Homo sapiens: one gene and its partner. The protein of the gene in region 2 purifies or fractionates together with the protein of the main gene of each other region. This does not show direct contact. Each region holds a gene or a part of one and is shown on either strand. Other genes may lie near its edges.

What was found. The genes of interacting proteins can lie anywhere in the genome.
Region 1: the proteins of HDAC11 (region 2) and GCFC2 purify together in Homo sapiens (co-immunoprecipitation; 4 studies listed by BioGRID and IntAct, with this or other methods). This does not show direct contact.

What each region holds. Positions count from the first base shown.
Region 1 is NC_000002.12:75,708,116-75,712,415, reverse strand, and holds the start of GCFC2 (intron Large complex component GCFC2), read left to right. Parts: upstream 1-1,500; 5' UTR 1,501-1,560; coding exon 1,561-1,825; exon of another isoform or gene 1,826-1,972; intron 1,973-4,300.
Region 2 is NC_000003.12:13,486,806-13,490,305, reverse strand, and holds part of HDAC11 (histone deacetylase 11), read right to left. Parts: intron 1-3,500. UniProt on the Homo sapiens protein: Responsible for the deacetylation of lysine residues on the N-terminal part of the core histones (H2A, H2B, H3 and H4).

The DNA of each region.
Region 1 (4,300 bases), on a different chromosome or scaffold from region 2:
ATCAGATTAGTTAGATACAGAGTTTCCACACACAGGTTCTCCAAGGCCTCACCAGAGCAGCTAGATAGAATGTCTATTGGTGCACTCACAAACCTTGAGCTAAACACAGGGTGCTGATTGGTGGGTTTACAAACCTTGAGCTAGATACAGAGTGCCGATTGGTGTTTTTACAATCCCTGAGCTAGACATAAAGGTTCTCCAAGGCCCCACCAGAGCAGCTAGATACAGAGTGTCGATTGGTGCACTCATAAACCTTGAGCTAAACACAGGGTGCTGATTGGTGTGTTTACAAACCTTGAGCCAGATACAGAGTGCTGATTGGTGTATTTACAATCCCTGAGCTAGACATAAAGACTCTCTATGTCCCCACCAGACTCAGGAGCCCAACTGGCTTCACCTAGTGGATCCCGCACCGGGGCTGCAGGTGGAGCTGCCTGCCAGTCCGGCGCCGTGCGCTCGTACTCCTCAGCCCTTGGGTGGTCGATGGGACTGGGCGCCGTGGAGCAGGGGGTGGTGCTCGTCGGGGATGCTCGGGCAGCACAGGAGCCCATGGAGTGGATGGGAGGCTCAGGCATGGCGGGCTGCAGGTCCCGAGCCCTGCACCGCGGGAAGGCAGCTAAGGCCCGGCGAGAAATCGAGCACAGCGCCGGTGGGCCGGCACTGCTAGGGGACCCAGTACACCCTCTGTAGCCGCTGGCCCGGGTGCCAAGTCCCTCACTGCCCGGGGCTGGCAGGGCCGGCCGGCTGCTCCGAGTGCAGGCCCGCCAAGCCCATGCCCACCCGGAACTCCAGCTGGCCCGCTGTCACCTCTCAATATGACGCCACTAAACATGGAGTTGATAACAGGTGTGCAGTAGCTCAACATTATATAGTATTTCTACCATACAGATACAGTAGTAGACAGAGCTTGATGAATATAGAACAAATTTGCGTCAGACAATAGCTTTTTGTTTTTAGATAGTTTCTTTAAGGGTGAAAACATTTAACCAGGCTCTCTTGAAGCCCTGCTGCCTGGGGGAAGTCATTTGATTTTTGCTAGTCTGTATGCATTGTTTATGTACAGACTTTATGGTTTTGTTCTCAAAGGCATCTCCTCCTACCCCGAGCCTCACACTGCTGGGGTTTCGTTTGTTTTAAATCTTGGTTGGAGGGGGCACTCTCTCCAGAAAGTAAAAGACAACGGATCTGGCTCCAGTCCAGGACGGAAAGCATAACGCTTGATTTCTGGATGGGGTTTGCACAAGGACAGCACGTGAGTTCTGCTCTCCGTGGGACTCAGACCGGATAGGCCGTGAAAATCTCTAAGGTGTCAGTCCACGCAACCTAACCTGGCAAAGGGAATGCTTTGCAAACTCAGGCCCCAGAACAGAACTCGGCCTACCAGATCCAGGGAGCCAAAGCACGCAGGCGCAGACAGAGTAGCGGTGAGCAGAAGGCAGGCGGGACGGGCGCGCGCACTCGGCGGCCAGGCGCGGCGGGAGCGCGCCCTAGGGGGCGGGCACTGAAGCTGCGGCTTGCGGTTCAGCGGGTTCTAGGGCGCCGGGCGCTCGGGCCTCGGCCATGGCTCACAGGCCGAAAAGGACTTTTCGGCAGCGCGCGGCTGATTCCAGCGACAGCGATGGCGCCGAGGAGTCGCCTGCTGAGCCTGGGGCGCCGAGGGAACTTCCGGTCCCGGGTTCTGCGGAGGAAGAGCCGCCCTCTGGAGGAGGCCGCGCGCAGGTGGCGGGACTGCCCCACCGGGTTCGGGGCCCTCGTGGCCGGGGCCGGGTCTGGGCGAGCTCCCGGCGTGCCACCAAAGCGGCTCCCCGCGCGGACGAAGGCTCAGGTGTCCAGGGAGACGCGGGGAAGCGGGGAGGTGACGGCACAGGGCGGGAAGGGGCCGCGGGGTCTCTGGATCCTTCTCTGGGGGTTCTATAACTTGCTGCCGACCACAAGCCATGCTGAGTCTTATCCAGAAAGACTTATCCAGAAGGTAGTGAGCGAGAAAATAGCTCGAGCACTTGCCCGCTATCTGCATCTGCCTTTTGGACTCCTTGGGGGAAATAAAACAATCGTGTACAGTTGGGAGGCTCTTCGTTTTCACCATCAGTTGACTCCATCAGTTATAACTAACACAGTTATCAAAGTTTATGAAGAACCTAAACTGTCACAACAAAGTTCAATAATTTATAATACTATTAAGTGGGCAGAAGTTATATGTACCTTTTAGACACTTGACCAACTTATCTTTCTTGAAAACATTTAGCCAGAGTAGTACAGGAATCTAGGTTTTGGGACATTCCCCTTTGTTTATTTTCTTTTTTCACCAGTTATTTGCAAAAACTAATAGTAATATATACAACACAAAGAAGCATGATAGAGATTCATGACACTGTAGATGGTACCAGTAATGGTGTTAGATATAGTGTCGTCATTTTGAAGTACCTTTGAGTTCTTAAATACAGGTGTAAGGCAGCATAAAGTTGTTTAAATAAAATGTGCTGCTCTGAGTTGGAATTGTAGCTTAATGAGGAATACGGTTTTTGGTTAGTCTTGAGAGCTAAAATCTTCCTATTATTTTTTATTGTCATTAAAGTGATTTTTATTAATTTATTGAGAAGTAAAAAATGTATATACTTATAGTGTACAACATGATGTTTGAAATGTGTCTACAGTGACTAAATGGAGCTAATTAACATTTGCTTTACCTTAGGTACTTACTTTTTTTTGTGGTGAGAACACTTACTATCTACTCTTACTAATTTTCAAGTATGCAATGCATTGTTATTAATTTTAGTCACCGTGTTGTAGAATAGAATTCCTCTTGTCTAATTAAAATGTGTGCCCTTTGACCAGTATCTTCCCAACTACCCTCAACCTCACTCAGTCCCTTCTAACCACTACTCGACTCTCTGCTTCTGTGATTTCTGATTTCCACTTTTTTAGATTACATATGTGAGATCATGTGGTGTTTGTCTCTCTGTGCCTGTCTTATTTCATGTAACATAATGTCCTCCAGGTTTATGATCTTCGTGATTTCTTGGTCTTTCTTGTGACCTTCTATTTGTCTAAAGTTTTCATGACCTTTTATATTTGTTTTCTGGTTAAACTTTGTAGATGAAAGTTGAAGTCAGGAGTTCCTTTTCTCTTGCCTTCTAGAATAGTGGTTCTCAAACTCTTTGGGAATTGGACCTCTTTTAGACTCTTAGAAATGATTAAGGATTCCAAAGAGCTTTTGTTTCAGTAGGTTATACCTATCAATATTTATCACACTAAAAATAAAATTTATTAATTCACTTACAAAAAATCTATTACATGTAAGGATAAGTAAGATTTTTGTGAAAAGTATTACCCCAAAAAAGGAAGAGTAGCATTGTTTTCAATTTACAGATCTCTTTAATGTCTGGCAAAATATTAATAGAAGACAGATGAATTGTCATAGGTGTTTCTGCTTTTAATCTCTTGTGCTATTTTGTTTTGGTTGAAGTATTTGAAGAAAATACAGCCTCTGACAGATACATGATTAAGACGAGTACTTAATAGCATTTTTAGATCATTGAGGGTGTTGTGCTTTAATATAACACAGCTCAACAAGTAATAAACTAACCCTTCTTAAAAGTTAGTTGCGGGCCGGGCACAGTGGCTCACACCTGTAATCCCAGCACTTTAGGAGGCCGAGGCAGGTGTATCAAGAGATCAGGAGTTCGAGCCCAGCCTGGCCAACATGGTGAAACCCCATCTCTACTAAAAATACAAAAATTAGCCAGGCATGGTGGTGGGTGCCTGTAATCCCAGCTACTCAGGAGGCTGAGGCAGAGAATCACTTGAACCCGGGAGGCAGAGGTTGCAGTGAGCTGAGATTGTGCCACTACACTCTAGCCTGGGTGACAGAGTGAGACTTTATCTCAAAAAAAAAAAAAAAAAAAAAAAAAAAAGTTGCCAAATGGATTCTTAAACCATATGATTAAATTTGGGGTGCTCTTACCTTAAAACTCTGTTCTGTTTTGTACTTTGGATCTTTTACTCATGAACGATTGGTAACATCTTGCATTATTTGGAAGGTATTCATTAGCTGAGTTTGCAGATCTTGCAAATGTTGGAGCATTTTATTGTACAATACCAAAAAAATCATAGTATTACCACTGATTAATCAGTCTGTAAGTACTGGAAAGCTGTTAGGTTCACAGTAGAGAATATAAGTTTTCCAAAATCTCAATTTTCACTTGAAATCTCTCATTTTATTGATAGGCACAACCGGGCTCATGTTTTGAGAAAATGTTTGTCAGATAGCCATGTCTGAATAATCGGTTTGTTAGTCATT
Region 2 (3,500 bases):
AAAAGAACAAAGTTGGCTGGGCACGGTGGCTCATGCCTGTAATCCCAGCACTTTGGGAGGCAGAGGCAGGCAGATCATGAGGTCAGGAGTTTGAGACCAACCTGACCAACATGGTGAGACCTCATCTCTACTAAAAATAGAAAAATTAGCTAGGCGTGGTGCCGGGCGCCTGTAATCCCAGCTACTCGGGAGGCTGAGGCAGGAGAATCACCTGAAACCAGAAGGCGGAGGTTGCAGTGAGCCGAGATCGCGCCATTGCACTCCAGCATAGGCGACAAAGCGAGACTGCGTCTCAAAAAAAAAAAAAGAACAAAGTTGGAGGCCTCACAATCTGGAATTTCAAAATTTGCTCCAAAGCCACAATAACCACAGTAAGCCACAGTAACAGTACCAAAATAGTGTGGTATTGACATATAGATCAAATGAATAGAATTGGCTGGGCGCAGTGGCTCACACATGCCTGTAATCCCAGTACTTTGAGAGGCCGAGGTGAGCAAATCACTTGAGGTCACGAATTCAGGACCAGCCTAGCCAACATGGTGAAACCCCATCTCTACCAAGAAACACAAAAATTAGCCAGGCATGGTAGCACACGCCTGTAGTCCCAGCTACCTGGGAGGCTGAGATGGGAGAATTGCTTGAACCCAGGAGACGGAGGTTGCAGTGAGCCAAGATGGAGCCACCGTACTCCAGCCTGGGCTGTCGAAAGAATGCAACCCTTTCTTAAACAAACAAACCAAAAAAATGAATAGAATTGAGAGTCTAGAAATAAATCCATACATCTATGGCCAGTTGATTTTCTACAAAGGTACCAAGACCATTCAACAGGGGAAAAACAGCCTAACAAATGGTGCTGGGATAACTGGATATCTGAGTACAAAACAATGAAGTTGGACTTGCCTCACACATATACAAAAATTAACTCAAAATTTATCAAGGCCTAAATATAAGTGAAAACTATAAAACTCTTAGAAGAAAACACATGCGGTAAACCTTCATGACCTTGGGTTTGGCAATGGATTCTTAGATATGACACCTAAAGAAAAGGAAAAAAAGATAAATTGGACTTCAGCAAAACTAAAATTTTTGTGCATCAAAGGACACTATCAAAAAAAAGACAACCCACAGAATGGGAGGAGTTATTTACAAATTAAATAATATCCAGAATATATAAAGAACCCTACAACTCAACAAAAAGACAAGCCAATTTTAAAAATGGACAAAGGACTTGAATAAACATTTCTCCAAATGACATATACAAATAGCCAATCAGCACATGAAAAGATCCTCAGTGTTAATTAGCCATTAGGTAAATGCAAATTAAAACCATGAGATACCACTTCACATCCAGTAAGATGGCCACACTGGGGGGGAAAAAAAAAAACACCAGAAAATAACAAGCATTGAAAAGGATGTAGAGAAATTGGGACCCTGGTACATTACTGGTGGAAATGGTGCAGCCCCCGTGGAGATCACCTTGATGGTTCTTCAGAAAATTAAACAGAATTACCATGTGACCCAGTAATTCTACTCCTAGGTGTATACCCCAAATAACTGAAAACAGGTATTCTAATAAATACTCGTATGCACATGTCCACAGCAACACTACTCACAATAGCCAAAAGGCCTATAAACTAATGAATGGATAAAAAAAATGTAGTGTTTTACAATGGAATATCATTCTGCTGTGAAAAGGAATGAAGTACTGATACATGCTACAACACAACACAGATGAATGTTGAAAACGCTGTGCTTAGTGAGATAAGCCAGACACAAAAGGTCACATATTGTATGATTCCATTTATATGAAATATCCAGGATAGGCAAATCCATAGAGAGAGAATGCAGGTGAGTGATTACCAAGGGGACTTGGGGGGATAAATGGGGAGCAAGTGTTTAAAGGACACAGGGTTTCCTTTTGGAGTGATGAAAATGTTTGGAACTAGAGATGATGGTTGCAGCACTTTGTGAATGGACTAAAGGCCACTGAACTGTACAGTTTAAAGTGGTTAATGGCGAATTTTGTTATGTAAATTTTACCACAATTAAAAAAAATTTTTTTTTAAAGGAGAGAGGAGCCCCTCAGGGAAGAGAAGAGAGAGTTGGAGACCAAGAGGAGCTCACTCCCCTAGAGACTCTCCAGGGTCCCTCCAGGTGCTCCATGGAGCTATGGTCTGTGTCTCCTTCTCTCCACACTATACTGGAACTCATGACAGATAGTTCTGCCCTGGGATCTTTGCACTTGCTGTTTCTTCTGCTTGGAATGCCCTTCCCCAGATGACCACATCACCCACTCCCTCACTCCCTTCCCACATGTCACCTGTGATCACAGGTAGTAAGCCCTTTCCTGACTCCTGATTTAAAACTGCCATCCTCTCACCAGCTCTCCCCACCCCTTTTCTGCTGTCCCTTCCTTTCTTCACGACACTCAGCACCATCTAACATATTATCTCATTACTTAATTATTACATTTATTGTCTGACTCTCCCACCTAAATGCCAGCTCCAGCAGGAAAGGGATGTGGTCTTTTGCTCCATCCCATCCCTGCAGCACCTAGATCACAGAGTGGTGCCCTCTGAGCACTTGCTGGATCCACGTGTTCTGAGCACTGTCCAGTGCAGAGTGCACAGGGGCAGGATGTCAGATGCTGCCCAGCACTAACCGACACTCCATGGCAAACTGTCACCCGAGAATCAACCAAAGGCAAGAGCCCAGTGCTGGGGCACTGGGGAGCTCAACAGCTACCCTCAGAGGGGCCAACCCTGGACCTTGCACACAGCAGGAGCTTGATAAACATGGGTTTCCCTGAATTGACATCTTGCAAACGTCCAGCTCCTGCTTCTCCTTCAGTGCCCTGTTTATTAAGTATCAAAGGCCACACCAGTGCAGAGTCAGGCATGAGCCCCAGGCAGGGGTTGGGGGTAGAATGGGATGAGGCAGGGGAGACGGTGGATGTTACACAGCACACACAGAATGACCAGGGAAAAGCAGCCTGAGAAACCTGAAGGACTCTCTAGGGCACTCTCTGGGCGCCCACAGCAGAGGAAGGAGAAAAGAAACATTGCAGACATCTGCAGGGAGGTGGGAGATGTTCCTGAGCTGCAGCCTTAGGTGCCAGATGATGTCTGAAACGGGCTTGGGTCCCACCTGGGCAGCAAGGGCATGTCACACCATATCACCCTCCTGCTGAAAACCCCCTCGTGACTGTCCAAGGTCCCTGGAACAACATATACACTCCTCCCACGGCCTGCAAGACCTTGTGTGGCCTGGGGCTCTGGCCTCCCTAACTGCACCGTGTACGAGCCACAATGTTTTATTCCCTTCCATCCGGCCTCCCAAGCATTCTTCTCCCCTTTGGAAGATCAAGTCCCCTCCACCCTCCAGGCCTGGGATTCTGAAACATTCTTCCTTCAAAGCTATACATGAGGGCCAGGAGCAGTGGCTCATGCCTGTAATCCCAGCACTTTGGGAGGCCGAGGCAGATGGATTGCTTGAGGTCA